2 separate regions of the Homo sapiens genome follow, and region 2 is linked to region 1. A link means that fine-mapping ties the variant in region 1 to the plasma level of a protein whose gene starts in the linked region. Region 1 holds a variant in brackets. A gene starts in the other region. All regions are shown on their reverse strands.

Region 1 (8,000 bases):
TAGTTTTAATTGTATTTATTTATTTTAAATGTGTTTATTTATTTTGAGACAAGGTTTTAGTCTGTCACCCTGGCTGGAGTGCAGTGCCACACCATGGCTCACTTCAGCCTTGACCTCTCAGGATCAAGCAATCCTCCCACCTCAGCCTTTCGAGTAGCTGGACCACAGGCATGCATGGCTAGTTTTTGTGTCTTTCTATAGAGACGAGGTTTCTCCATGCTTGGCTAATTTTTGTATTTTTCTGTAGAGACAGGATTTCTCCATGTTACCCAGGCAGGTCTCAAAGCAATCTGCCTGCCTTGGCCTCCCAGTCTGCCTGCCTCGGCCTCTCAATAGCTGGGATTACAGGCGTGCCACCATGCCCAGCTAATTTTTGTATTTTTAGTAGAAATGGGTTTCCGCCATGTTGGCCAGGCTGATCTTGAACTCCTGACCTCAAGCTATCCGCCTCGGCCTCCCAAAGTGTTGGGATTACAGGCGTGAGGCACAGCGCCGGGCCACTAATTTTTAGAGATGGGGTCTTGCCGTGTTGCCCAGGCTGGTCTCAAATTCTTGGCCTCAAGTGATTCTCCCACCTCAGTCTCCCAAACTGGGGGGATTACAGGCATGAGCCACTGCAGCCTAACATTTTAGATTTAAATGAATTACTATTGAAACCAATGATTTAAAGTAATGAAGGATGCTGTAATATTACATTCAAACTTAATGCTGAGGCTTTAAAGTAAGAATGCAAGAGTAGGACTACAAAGTTGCATATTGAAGATTGTAATGATGTCATCACTAATGCAGTGAATACCAGTGATGGAGAAAGTCACCAGTGATGGAGAAAGTCACCAGCGCTGGGAATGGTGGCTCATGACTGTAATTCCGGCACTTTGGGAGGCTGAGGTGGGAGGACTGCTTGAGTTTAGGAGTACATGACCAGCCTGGGAAATGTACAGAGACCCCTGTCTCTACAAAAAAAAATTTTTTTAATTAGATGGGCATGGTGCTGTGTGCCTGTGGTCCCGCTACTTGGGAGGCTGAGGCAGGAAGATCACTTGAGGAGTTCGAGGCTGCAGTGAGCTATGATCACACCACTGCACTCCATCCTGGGTGACAGAGGAGACCCTGTCTCAAAAAAAAAAAAAAACAAAAGAGAAAGTTGCCAGGATCCCAAAGTGATGTGAAATGTACCTGGTTTGGAGCATGATGATTAACCCTGGCTTTGAGGAGAGTGATTTTCTAGGTTTGAGCCTGGAGATTAAAACTTTTATGATAATCCTTTTCTTAATATGTATATTTTGCTACATCCTACATAGCTTTAGTATTCATTGAATTAATGGTTTCTAATATAATTCAATTTTTTGTTACTTATGAATTTATATCAGGTCTTTTTTGCAAGTTTAAAGCAAGTTTTATGTGATCAAAAGAAGAGATTTGATTTTTGTTTTACAAGTCTTGGCTAATTATTCTTCCTTTCCCTAATTTTTTTTTTCTTTTTTTGAGACAGAGTCTTACTCTGTTGCCTAGGCTGGAGTGCAATGGCATAAATAGGGTTCACTGCAGGCTCAACATAGGCTCAAGAGATTCTCCTACCTCAGCCTCCCGAGTAGCTGGGACCACAGGTGCACATCACTATGCCTAGCTAATTTTTGTATTTTTTGTAGAGACAGGGTCTTGCTGTATGGCCCAGGCTGGTCCCAAACCTCCTGGGCTCAAGGGATCCTCCCACCTCAGCCTCCCAAGGTGCTGGGATTACAGGCATGAGCCTCTGCACCTGGCCATTTTTAAAAATAATTACCAACTACTTGAAGAACATTTTTTTAATATAAAAAATGTATTTGAAATAGAGATAGGGTCTCACTATGTTGCCCAGGCTGGCCTCAAACTCCTGGGCTCAAACAATCCTCCCGCCTCGGCCTCCCAAAGTGCTGGGATTACAGGCATGAGCCACCACACCTGGCAGAAGAACATTTTAATCACCTCCTCCAAAAAAAACCCTCATACCCATTAGCAGTCACTCCTTATTCCTCCCTTTCCCCAGCCCCTGTAACCCACTAATCTACTTTCTGCCTCTAGGGATTTGCCTATTCTGGACATTTCATCTAAATGGAATCATACAATATGTGGCTTTTGGTGTCTGGCCTTCCTTCACTCTGCATAATGTTTCCAAGGTTTATCTATGTTGTAGCATGTATCAGTACTTCATTCTTTTTATGACCCAATAATATTCCTTTGTATGCTTATACCACATTTTGCTTATCCATTCAGTTAATTATTGGATTTTTATATATAGTGTGTTCTGTTTACACAAATAAAACAATGTTCAATCATTTTCAATACCTGTTGATGAAAAGTCCTCAATGCTCCTCTCTACCATCCACAAAAAAAATTTCAAAAACATAGGTGAATCATGTATACTCGCACATGTCATATGCCAGTATATACAGTACACTTTTACCATGTACTGCAGAGTAAGAGCCAAACTACCAAAGCAAGAGCTCGAAGCAAAACACTCTGGACAGCTTGAAGAAAAACACTCCCACATCTGTGCCAAGAGGTTGTGAAATTACAGACACTTTAAAATTAGAGAAAAGGCCGGGTACAGTGGCTCATGCTTGTAATCCCAACACTTTGGGAGGCCAAGGTGGGTGGATCACCTGAGGTCAGGAGTTTGAGACCAGCCTGGCCAAGATGATGAAAGCCCGTCTCTACTAATAATACAAAAAATTAGGCCAGGCGCAGTGGCTCACGCCTGTAATCCCAGCATTTTGGGAGGTCAAGGCGGGCGGATCACTAGGTCAGGAGATCGAGACCATCCTGGCTAATAAGGTGAAACCCCGTCTCTACTAAAAATACAAAAAAATTAGCCGGGCGTGGTGGCGGGTGCCTGTAGTCCCAGCTACTCGGGAGGCTGAGGCGGGAGAATGGCGTGAACCCAGGAGGTGGAGCTTGCAGTGAGCCGAGATTGCGCCACTGCACTCCAGCCTGAGCGACAGACTGAGACTCCGTCTCAAAAAAAAAAAAAAAAATTAGCTGGGCATGGTGGCAGGCGCCTGAAATCCCAGCTGCTCCAGAGGCTGAAGCAGGAGAATCGCTTGAACCCAGGAGGCGGAGGTTGCAGTGAGCTAAGATTGCGCCATTGCACTCCAGCCTGGGCAAGAAAAGTGAAACTCCGTCTCAAATAAATAAGTAATTAATTAATTAATTAGAGAAAAGTCCACTTACGGAAAAAGGTCAGTCCTCAGACGG[G/C]GGATCTTGTTGGATTCACCTGGAAGTAGTTCGAACATTGGTCCTTTTTCTTCAAGGCAGTTTGCAGAATTACTGTCTGGATTGCAGCGCACCCATTGGTACCTGGCTCTCCGCGTAGGATAACCTGCCCGAGGAACCCACATTGTTACTAAGTATCTACTACACAGCTTCTAATCACTCTGTCCTAAGAAGTTTTTATTTTTATTTTTTTTTCGAGACAGGGTCTCAGTCGGCTGCCCAAGCTGGAGTGCAGTACTGTGATCATAGCTCACTGCAACCTTGAACTCCTGGGCTCAAGCCATTCTCCCACCCCAGCCTCTTGAGTAGCTGGGAATACAGGGGCACCACAACGCCCAGCTAGTTTTGTTTTGTTTTTGTTTGTTTGTTTGTTTTTTGGAGAGATGGGGGTCTCACTATGTGCCCAGGCTGGTCTCAAACACCTGGGCTCAAGCAGTCCTCCTGCCTTGGCCTCCCAGTGTGCTGAGATTACAGGAATGAGCAACTGCACCCCACCCGCCCTAAGAAGGTTTTAACTAAATAGATTCTAAATTTGGTAAAAGGCAAAATGTAGACAGATTTTGTGCCCATTCATATAACAGCAGCACCCACTATGTGCCAACATTTTATATAAATTGTCCTTCTTACAACACTCCAAAAAGTAGCAGTTTAAAGTTAGAATAGGCTTTGGAATCAGCTGCCTGGAGTGAAGTCCCAGGTCTGCTGACTAGTTATGGAACCTTAACTTCTCTGAACCCTCACTGTAATATGAAGATACTAATAGTGTCATAAGCCTATCACAAAAATTAAATGAGAAAATACACTTAGAGAATTTAACACAGTGCCAGGCACACAGTAAGCACTTGATAATATTAACTGTTGTTACTTTTGTACTATTATCTCAATTTTACACAAAAGAAAATTGCAGCCACACAGGCGCTAGGATTCCAACCCACATCTGACCCCAAAGCCCACATCTTTTCATAGAGATGAGTCAAATCAGGTTCAGAAAGGGGAAGGAACACACTGTGGAGTACCCGTGGTATCACAGAATTCTAGTTCTTGTGTTTTAGGGCCATACAGTATCCTTAGGAATGAAAAGTAGATAACAATTTGTCCTGTGTCTTTGCACTCAGATTTCACAAGAACAAGTCTCCTCTATTCACAGAGCACCAGGCAGCTTGGAATATCTGAGTCTCAGCTTCTTCTGAATTTCATTTCTATGGAAAAGGCTCCAAATCTGATATTATGAGGTTATATAGGAGATTTATTTATGTATTTATTTTATTTTATTTTATTGAGAGAGAGTCTTGCTGTGTCGCCCAGGCTGGAGTGCACTGTCACGATCTCGGCTCATGGCAACCTCCACCTCCCGGGTTCAAGCAATTTTTCTGCCTCACCCTCTGGAGTAACTGGGATTACAGGCACTCACCACCACGCCCAGCTAATTTTTAGTATTTTTAGTAGAGATGGGGTTTTGCCATGTTGCCCAAGCTGGTCTCAAACTCCTGAGCTCAGGCAATCCACCCACCTTGGCCTCTGAAAATGTGAGGATTACAGGCGTGAGCCACCATGCCCGGCCTATATAGGAGGTTCTTTGTTAGCTAATGAAATAAAATCTTCCTTCCTCAGTTTAGCAAAGACAAAGGCCTGGTGGTGAGAAATACTTCACCGCCCTTCAAAAAGTTCATCTCCTCCCCACTCCAAGCATATACTTTATTCTAATGAGTGCAACTAATAATTACCTAGCAAGAAGGAGCATGTCTAGGATTCTTGAAAGTCAGGAAGGGTAGTTTTAAAGCTCACCACAAAATAATGGAAAACATTCAGATAAATTACAAGGCATCAACTCATAAGAGAATACTAACCAAATGAAGAAAAGTACTTTTTTTTTTTTTTTTTTGAGATGAAGTCTCGCTCTGTTGCCCTGGCTGGGATGCAGTGGCACAATCTCGGCTCACTGCAACCTCTGCCTCCCAGGTTCAAGCGATTCTCCTGCCTCAGCCTCCCGAGTAGCTGGGATGACAGGTGCCCACAATCATATCCAGCTAATTTTTGTATTTTTAGTAGGGATGGGGTTTCACCATGTTGGCCAGGCTGGTCTCGAACTCCTGACCTCAGGTGATCCACCCGCCTCAGTCTCCCAAAGTGCTGGGATTACAGGTGTGAGCCACCACACCCGGCCGAAAGTACTTTTTATGGAAAAGACAATGTGGCATTGTAGAAAAACCTATACTTAAAAATGAGTGAGAGGGTGAGAGGCGGGTAGGCAAAAACTTTTTTTTTTAATAAAATAAAAATAAAAATTAGGTTGGGTGTGGTAGCTCATGCCTGAAATCCCAGCACTTTGGGAGACTGAGGTGGGAGGATCACTTGAGCCCAGGAGTTCAATACAGGCTGGGCAACATAGAGAGACTCCCATTTCTACCAAAAAAGAGAAAAAAGATTTTAAAAATTAGCTGGATGTGGTAGCACACATCTGCAGTCCCAGCTACTTAGGAGGCTGAGGCAGGAAGATTGCTTGAGACTGGGAGGTCACAGTGAGCCAAGATTGCACGGCTGCACTTCAGCCTGGGTGACACAGCGAGACTGTCTCAGAAGAAAAAAGTTTATTTACAAAATTAAAAATAAATAAAAATAACTGAGAAAATCAGAATACCTCTTTGCATGAATAATAGTTTCAATTATATAAACAGACATGGGGGGAAAAATGGAAGGAAATACACAAAAATAACTGGAGGTAGAATCTTTGGTGATTTTTTTTCTCATTTTGTTTTCTAAATTGCTATAATAAACAATATTCCTCTAAAAACATAAACATTAAACACTTTAATATAGAAAACAGTAAATATTCTCCCATTGGATTTTCTTTCTTTTCTTTGTAACTATATATTATTCTATCATAATCTTTCCTATGATTCCTGAGTATAGCTTACAATGTCTGGTCTGGGAGAGCTGTTTGTCCAAAATGAGCTAACTCTGCCACTGCCTGGAGGCTGGGGATAAGGCAGGCAAAATGACCTTTCAATGTCTGCCCCTTACTGGCTGTGTGATCTTGGCCAACTTAAACTTCCTGTGCCTCAATTTTCTCATCTGTAGGATGGGGCAGTAATAGAGTTAATAAGGAGATACAAATGTTAGGTTCTCAGAGTAGTACCTAGCACATAGTCAGAGCTCTTCATTGCTAGTTCCTGTCATGAAAAGGAGGAGGACAACAATGACCTATGATCTCCGAGAGTGAACATCTTATAAATTTAAATTCAAATTCCCATTCTACCATTTAGTATCTCTAGGAGTCTCAATTTATGGACTTTCTTTCTTTTCTTTTTTATTTTTCCTTATTTTGAGATAGAGTCTGGCTCTGTTGCCCAGGCTGGAGTGCTGTGGCACATCTCAGCTCACTGCACCCTCCGCCACCTGGGTTTAAGCTATTCTCCTGCCTCAGCCTCCCGACTAGCTGGAATTACAGGCACGTGCCACCATGCCCGGCTAATTTTTTGTAGTTTTAATAGAGACGGGGTTAGCCAGGAAGGTCTCGATCTCCTGACCTCGTGATCCCCTCGCCTTGGCCTCCCAAAGTGCTGAGATTATAGGCGTGAGCCACCGCGCCCGGCCTGGTTTCACTCTTTCTCTTTTGATTCTTTCCTGAGGCAGCATTAGTTTAGCATCTAATTGCTACTTAGACGTCTCTTCCTGTAGGTGAAATAAAAATCCAGCATCTTCTCCAGCAGAGGGCGGTGTCTTCACACCTTGTACTGTCTAGACCAACTTTGTCCAATAGAAACACAAAGCAAACCACATAGGGAGTTTTAAATGTTCCAGCGGCCATATTTTTAAAAGTAAAAAGAAACAGGTGAAATTAATTTTATTTAACCTAACATATTCAAATATTGTCCTTTAACATATCATCAATGTAAAAGTTATTACTGGGATATTTTGCATTCTTTTCTTCATACTAAGGGTTCCAAATCTTGTATATTTTGCATTCACAGCCTGTCCCAATTTGGCCTTGCCACATTTCAAGTGTTCAGTAGCCACAAGTGACTTGTGGCTACCGTACTGGACAGAGCAGGCCTAGGCAGTCTCTTCTGCAAGCCGCTGATGCACTGAGTATCAAGCTGAGAAAATGTTTGCTCACACAGGAAGCTAAACAGAAAAATAATGCTTAATGAGAAAGCATCCAGGTGAAAGACCACATCTTTTCACCAGCATGACAAATACAACTGTAGCATATTAGTAAAAAATATTTCTAGAATACAAAATTCCCCCAGAGTTCAGAATCTCAGCTAATTAAAATTCGTAACGAAGGCTTTCTTTTGGGGGATGATGAAAATGTTCTAGAAGCAATTATAGTGATGGTTGCATGACTCTGTGAATATACTAAAAAACATTGAACACTTTTTTTTTTTTTTTTTTGGAGACAGAGTCTTGCTCCGTCATCCAGGCTGGAGTGCAGTGGTGCAATCTCAGCTCACTGCAACCTCCACCTCCCAGGTTCAAGTGATTCTCCTGCCTCAGCCTCCCAAGTAGCTGGAATTACAGGTGCACACCACCATGCCCAGTTAATTTTTGTATTTTTAGTAGAGACAAGTTCTCACCATGTTGGCCAGGCTAGTCTCAAACTCTTGACCTCAAGTGATCCACTTGCCTTGGCCTCCCAAAATGCTGGGATTACAGGCATGAGCCACCACACCTGGCCTAATCACTGAATTGAACACTTTTAATGGGTGAACTGTATGGTATGTGAACACTATCTCAACAAAGCTATT
Region 2 (8,000 bases), not on the chromosome of region 1:
CCGAGGCGAGCAGATCACCTGAGGTCAGGAGCTCCAGACCAGCCTGGCCAACATGGCAAAACCCCATCTCTGCTAAAAATACAAAAATTAGCCAGGCGTGGTGGCCTGCACCTGTAATCCCAGCTACTCAGGAGGCTGAGGCAGGAGAATTGCTTAAACCCAGGAGGTGGAGGTTGCAGTGAGCTGAGATTGTGCCACTGCCCTCCAGCCTGGGTGACAGAGCAAGACTCCGTCTCAAAAAAAAAAAAAAAAATTGACACATGCAAAATATAATAAACAAAATTGTATAAGTCCTTCATTTTTCATAAATTCAACGGAATGAACATTTAGTGACAATTTATTATAATTCATTTTTCAGAACTAGAAACTTCAAGTAGGATGACAGAGTGAGCTCAGCCACATGACACAGCAGAAGCCAGTCCCTGCAACAGGAAGAGCTGTGAGGAGAGGGTAAGAGGAGGTCAGGGCAGCAGAGAACCATGGAGGGCCTACGTGCTCAGCAAATTGCTGCTACATAGGACATCAGGGTCAGTTTTTCCAGCTCATATTTTTCCAAATACATTGTAAATTTGGACTTCGATATCAAATGTCCTGGTTTTTAAAAATACTATATGCTCCAAACAATCTGCATGTTGAATACTGCCCCTGGGTCACAACCTACAGTATAAAATAAGTTCATTAGAAACCGAAGTGCCTAGTCCACCATGAGGGACACTTGAACATTAAAACTCATGAAATCTTAATCACTTATCCCTTCACAGAAGCTTTTTTAAGCATCTACTATACAAAAAACCCTATGTTATGCATATTTACATCCTAGAATTCAGTGGCCTAGAACATTCTTAAAGTGGGTGTTTGCATGGCACGGCTAACTCCCTCACAGCCCTCAGGTCTTGTGACTGTCACCTGACAGGGAGGGCACCCTTGACACCCCCACCCCTATCCTGCTTCTCTCCATAGCACTTACACTATTTGTTGAATGAATGGATTGGTGGACGGCCTTTCTTGTAGCTACTACTATAAAAGAACATTGTACAATCTATTCCAATTCATTTAGAATGTGAAGGACACCACAGACTGGCAAAAGAACATCAGAAAATTCAAACTGCCTACTTTTTTGGCAGGTGTGTGTGTGCCCCACAATATACTCCTGACACATGCTGCTCCTATAGCTCCTGCCTCACCTATCAAACCTTTTCATTTGGGCTGTGTGCAGGTGGTTCCCACCTGTAATCTCAGCACTTTGGGGGGCCGAGATGGGAGGATTGCTTTAGCCCAGGAGTTTGAGGTATGATTGTACCACTGCACTCCAGCATGGGTGACAGAGTGAGACTCTGTCAATCAATCAATCTTTTATTTGCATGAGACAGTTTCCAAGGTCCTCCCCTGTTCTTATTTGTGTTTGGACTTTGACCACTGTTGTCCATGTCTAGACCAGGAGAAGTTCTAGAAAGGGTGTGAGAAATCATACGAGAGCTTAGATTAGGCAATTTATTTTTATTTTCACGATGGTTAGCATATATAAGGCCAAAGGAAAATAAATTTGCATTAAAGTTCCTTTTATGGCAATCAATATTTTTATTCATAAACTGTCAGTACTGAGAATATTACTTTTTCAATTTTGTAATTTATCTTTGTGTTTGCAACATGTAAATTACTTGTGATTCCTAAATATACTGTTATAATGCAACTAGTTCTTCAATATTTAGACTAAGGCTCAATGAGGCAAAAATAAAACAATTTAAAAAGCATGGAGAAAAGAACTAGGTCCCCTCCATAGGACCCCTTTAGGAAACAAAAATGGAAGATTTTTCTCTTCACAATACTTGAGGGAAGAAGAGGTACACTGTTTCATTTGGAATGATAACCTGGAAAAGGGTGGAGATAAACTCCAGTTTCTTCCCAGATGGCACGTTCGTGCCTGCTGCACCATCTCTGGCAAATGTGAGGCAAAGCTTTCCATGTCACAGCCCCAAGATGGTGGAGGGTTGTGCCTGAGGCCTGCACCTTTACCACATTATCTGCAGAACAGAGTGAATAAGCCAAATATACTACCCCTAACCCCAGCATCTTATTCCAGGGCCTATTTCTTTCCCTAGGCCCTCTGACCAAAGATCGAAGCAAAATATCAGAGGAAGACTAGCTTAAGTCTCACAGTGGGGAGAAGGAAAAGTAGCTGTAACATATCTTTAGAAACACAATCTTACAGGAACTGCCTCTCAACTCTCTAGATATGGGAGGCAAAACTGCACCCAGAAAGGCCATGCAGGCAACTCGACTGAGGAGTGCCTTGGGTGGGTGACGTGGACAACATCCTGTGAGTATAGAAGAGAAAAACACAAGTCCCAGAGACAACAGTTGCCATGCAAAACCAGAAATCACAGACTGGGAAAGCCTAATTTTTAAAGAGAAGTTGAAATCTTATTTTTAAATACAGCAATTTCACCTAACAAAAATACATACACATGACCCCCAAATGACAGACTGAGGAACGTTCATAGTACCTCTCCAAAAGGTAATTAATCTAGTTGAATATATAAACAATTTGTGGCTTATTCATGTATGAGAATACTATACAGTGACAAGAATGAACTACTGTGTATCACAATGACACGAATGGATCTCAAAAGCATGTCACTGAATGAAAAAAGCCAGATGCAAAAGAGAATGCACAGTATGATTCCATTTATATAAAGTTCAGGAAATAACCTATGGTGCTGAACTCAGGCTGTGACTTGAGGAGTAAGAGGAGGGATTCTGGATGTATGAGAATGGAGTGTGAGGCTGGGATTTCTTGATTGGGGTCATTTTGTAAAAATTAATTGAGTTGTACCATTATGATATGTTTTTTTTTGGTAACATACACTTCAATAAACAGTTCAGAAACAAAACATTGTGCAGGACAAACTGAATTTGACCCAAGGGCTTCCTGTTTATGACTGTGTTCTGAAGGAATTTAGGCAAACACTAGATGCTCTGGATACAAAGATTTTAAAAATCCAGTTCATATTTTCATTATGTTCCCAATTCATCCAGTTAACAGATACATTTGCAACTGAAATATACTTGAATAAATGAGAATATGAGCATTCTAAACCAAACAGGAGGGCCGTCATTCCCTAAGGTGCTGCAGGGCTAGGATGGGGCCTGAGTTACAGAGGGCCACTAATGGGACTACCGAGCTGCCTGGAACTGTCAGCCTAGAGGTCCAAGGAGGAGTACTTTATTTAAGTGAGGGGAGGATGAACACATAGCCAGCTGCTATGCACATCTGAGGCACATGTATTCTTTAGGACTGTAGCTGCCTTGCTTAACACAATGTGTGCCATTTCTCTGGAGAGAGGGAACAAACGATGGTCAGACTCTTGATGACAGTAGAGAACAGGTCTTCTAACCCACTGGAAAAGCTCTTTGCTGGCCTCCAAATCTATACAACAGTTGGGAAGAACCATTGGGGTCACTTACAACAGTAAGTCCTTGCCACTAGGGTTAGAAAACTGTCCTCTCAGGCCGGCCATGGTGGCTCATGCCTGTAATCCCAGCACTTTGGGAGGCCGAGGCGGGCAGATCACGAGGTCAGGAGATCGAGACCATCCTGGCTAACACAATGAAACACTGTCTCTATTAAAAAACCAAAAAATTAGCCAGGCGTGGTGGCGGGCGCCTGCAGTCCCAGCTACTCGGGAGGCTGAGGCAGGAGAATGGCGTGAACCTGGGAGGCAGAGCTTGCAGTAAGCCAAGATTGCGCCACCGCACTCCAGCCTGGGTGACAGAGTGAGACTCCGTCTCAAAAAAAAAAAAAAGAAAACTGTCCTCTCTTGAAGGTCTTAGTTGATGTAGAATTGGGCAGTCTCTTGGGGATGAGTGGAAAGGGGGTACAAATAATGATTTATTTTCAGGAAATAGCATCTTCCCTGCTCTAAGTCTCCCTAAATGTCAGTGAGGCCATAGCTAATATTCTCTTGAAAAGGGAAAGTTGTATGCATCCTAAGAGGGTGTTACTTGGACATGCATGTGTGTCTGTGTTATATCACATATGTTGAGTCCAGGGAGCAGTTCATGGAGCCTCATCCATAGTTTCCCTGACATGCTATAGCAGTGCTAAAAGCTTAAAAAAAAAAAAAAGTCTGGAGAAGTATGCATAATGCAATAGCTACAGTCATTAGAAGAAAAAAAAAGTATGGTTCTTTCTCAGGTACATCTGAAGTTTGGGTATATACTTCAGTAATGTTGGTATCCTTTATTCAGATTGATAAATATTTTATTAGTCTATACAGGTTGAGTAATTTTTGAAATTGTAATTTACAAATATTCATTCACTTAAGAATCTAATATTTTTAAAACTAGGTATTTCTTGAATGACTCCGACTGCACTTTCAATGGCCAGTTGCCATGCATTATTAAACTTTCTTTTTTTTTCTTCTTCAGAATCTTCCAGTAGACGTCTAGAGTTTAGCTAGAAGTCTTGGCTACGATACAAACAGTGATGGAAAACACATGAGCAGTAACAAGTTTTAATCTTGCTCCTCAGTACTAACATGGACTAATCTGTGGGAGCAGTTTATTCCAGTATCACCCAGGGTGCAGCCACACCAGGACTGTGTTGAAGGGTGTTTTTTTTCTTTTAAATGTAATACCTCCTCATCTTTTCTTCTTACACAGTGTCTGAGAACATTTACATTATAGATAAGTAGTACATGGTGGATAACTTCTACTTTTAGGAGGACTACTCTCTTCTGACAGGTATGTTTCATGTCTATCTTACAAGTATCGATGTATACTTTACAGTCAATACTAAGGAGACATTAATGTTATTAATAAATGCTTATAAATAATAGGATAAAGTCCAAAGTTTATCTCTATAATTTCTTAAAAATCAGCATTTAAATACAAACCTAAATTTGTACCTAAAATTATTCTAGTTTTATGTCTTACCTATAATGAATGTATTTTAAATATAATTATGTGACTTTTTTTTTCAGCTAAGTGAAAACCTGTCATTATGCCTTACCATAAATGTTAACATGATTGATTTTAAAAGTCATCTAAATAAACATCTTGTATGTTTATCTAGGAAAATAACATTGCTATAATAATGATCATGAAGTTTGGGGATATCACAGCTATATTAAATGAAACAGTAAATATATTTTTCAATATTTAAAATATTTTCTAATGTGTATTTAAAATGTGTGAATTACTGAAATGTCAATTTTACTTATACATTTGAATATTCATTTTTTTCCTTGATAAATGTCTTCCTTATTATAATGAAATGGCACTGAAAAGTTCAAATGGAAATCTATTCAATTCCAAGAAAGAATACTTATCAGCAATAGTTTAGCTAGCACTATATTCAATATGAAAGATTAGGAAATTTTCACAGCATGTATACAGTCAGAATTTAACACTTTCAAAGATTTCCTTTGTCTACTCCCAAAGTAAATTTCTGATTAAATTTTAGATTAAAAAATTTAAGCAATGTATTCAATATTCTACTCCCTAGTAATCTAAATAGCGCACAGCATTCTTTCATGTTAATCTATTCAGAGGTGTGGCACCCAGGAAACAGTGGCCACATGGTGTAGGGACTGAGTCATAAAGAACCTGAGGGGGTTGTATTTCCCTAAAAATAAAGTTGTTTAAATCCAAGAATCAAGCTGTTAAAAGAAAGAAATGAAAAAAGAAAGAAAAATCGAGCACAAGCCCACACACATAAAAGGATCCTGATGTTTTTAGTTTGTTTTTTGGCATTAAGGAGTATAGTGTAGTAGTGGAAAGAACAGAGGATATATAGTCTTCTGTTACAACTAACTACTCAATTAAAAACAAATATTCTGATAACTGATCTGAGGTTTGAGACAAAAACAATTAACTTTACAAGCACAAGTCTTGAGGCACTGTGGGAAACATCATAAAAATGGAGAGGCAGTAGATTTTGTTTTTTAAGACAGTAGCTTGATTGCTAGACATGTGGAGAAATTAATGAAGGGCAAAATTAGTATAAAAGGAAGAACAGCTAGAATGCTTTGTCAGAATGCTAGTTATACTTCTAAGGTAAAATTAACTACTTTTTAAGGAAAGTGCTATCTTTATCAGTATCCATGAACAAATGGTACTGTGAATAAGTTTCCAAATGCATGTTGGACTTTTAACTCATTTGTTAGCTTACAAGACTATGCCTTGATTACATCTGAATTTGGTTTGGATTCCTTCGGTGAAATATATGGAGTATGTTATATCACATTTATATGCTGAAATCTGCTACTGGTACCTGTGAACTGATAGGCATGTTTAAACCCAGGGGAAAAGTTGCCAAGCGGGCCTTTAAACATGGGATTTAAAAGCACAGTGACTTATTTACCTAATAATAGTGTCTGAGAGGAAATACCATTTCACTTAGATAAACTTTCTAAGTTTGTAGACCAGTTAAATGGAAACAAGAAAGCTTATGTGCTTCTTAAGCTTTATTTCCAGTCCATATGTTATGAACTCTTTTAAGAACTTGGCCAAACCTCCTTACCTAGGCTTTTCCAGAGGAAAGTCTGTTTACTGTCTGGAAGTAACTATGAGATTAAAATCCATTTAGGAGGACATGCAGTCTAGTGCAAAGCACAACCAACAAGCAGTGAGGAAGCCAGCCCTCAGCTCCACCACCTCCAGCCAGTTCTGGACGCTCACTGCCTCTGCTTTTTCTCAGTAAAAGAGGGCCATGGGGGGAAAGTCTCAAAGACCTCTCTTAGCTCTAGGCTACTATGATTTATTAGTAATAGCAGTAGCACTGGAAGAATACTCCAAACACTACTCTGATTAAGAGAGACTTGAAACCAAAATCCAAAGCTTTCCATGAGTGGAAAACACTGGCAAAACTGGTCTAAATCAGGGAAATATTGAGTATTCCTGAGAAGAAGATTTAATATTTTTAAAGGGTTTAAAAATAGAGTAACCTGAATACTGCCAAAACTAATAAAACAGAGGTTGTACCTCATTAATAAACTCAAAATAAAACAGCCAAAAGTCATATCATTTTAAATGACATATAATATTCTCTACATTCTTTCTGAATAATAAGAAAAAAATACTGCTATCTAGGGTTCTCTCCTAGACATTCCATTATTTTCCTATTGGTAAACAGTTGCACACTGAACTGGGGGAGGTTTAGGACCTATACTTGATTGTACTTATTAACAAAGCAGTGGAAGAGACCCAGCAAGAGACTCAGGTAAAGAGTGTAAATAATGAATTCCTCATGGTATCAAGGTTGGCCTGACTTTTTTCTTTGCAAGCAACCAGGATACACAAATGCAAAAGATTAGATTAATTGTAAAAGGCTAACAGAAGACAGAACTAGCAGAGAGAAATGAATTTTCCAGAAGGCATTTTTGAGTTTCCATATAAAGACTTTCCTAACAGCCATGGATGGACAACTGTGGAAGATGCTGCCTTGAGGTAGTATCCTCTCCCTGGAGCTATTCAAGCAGGGTGGATATGCTCCCTGTTCCAGAATGTTCTGGAACCTTCACCACCAGGAGGAACTCCTGTTTCAAAGGTCTTCATCTCTTATTCTCCAGGAAAGGGCCTAACTACTATATAAAAGTGGCTGCCTCCACTGCTCAGCAACTGGAATGCTTCCCAACAGCTAAAGATAATGCTACTGCCTAAAACTTGCAGGCAGAAGTCTCCATTTCATATTTTAATTTTACCGCAGTTTTGATTAAAGGCAGGGAGGGTCTCCTGTAACTTATCAGTCTCAGAAAGAGGAGAGACAAAGGAAGGGGCCCCGGCTGATGCTTCTCCTGATGCCACTGGGGGACTGGTCAGCAGCCCTGAGGCAGGGATGTGGAAAAAAGCAGGACCACTACTGTTCTGCTCCCTGCCTTCCCTGCCCTGTGTGCCTTCTCCTTCTCCTCTCAACTCTCAGTTCTGCTCCTCATACCTGATCCAGTTCCTCATCTCGAACCTCAGCTCAGTACTGGGGAAGCCTCTCTTGACGGTGGCAC

Direction of the effects. Positions count from the first base shown, and alleles are read on the strand shown. Strength reflects both the effect of a copy and how common the allele is.
For the plasma level of the protein whose gene starts at base 4,530 in region 2, C is the high allele of the variant in region 1 and G is the other (weak association).

Evidence for each region. A credible set is the group of variants that fine-mapping cannot tell apart. PIP is the posterior inclusion probability: the model's chance that the variant is causal. Protein levels are from antibody-based Olink assays in UK Biobank. Linkage for the fine-mapping came from a reference panel and not from the study's own genotypes, which makes the PIPs less certain.
Region 2: it holds the start of ASPN, and the variant in region 1 is the best candidate, but not a certain one, in a credible set for the plasma level of the ASPN protein (UK Biobank, PIP 0.71).

Annotation. Positions count from the first base shown.
Region 1 is chr10:69,092,442-69,100,441 of GRCh38, reverse strand. It overlaps SRGN (serglycin), which reads right to left. Exons shown (of 3, transcript NM_002727.4): 2 at 3,211-3,358. Among named protein-coding and RNA genes, the nearest start is that of SRGN, 8.3 kb to the right of the region's middle. The variant G/C (reference allele first, on the strand shown) is at 3,235.
Region 2 is chr9:92,479,036-92,487,035 of GRCh38, reverse strand. ASPN (asporin) reads left to right here and starts at 4,530. Exons shown (of 8, transcript NM_017680.6): 1 at 4,530-4,743. All of the region lies in intron 5 of CENPP (centromere protein P), which reads right to left.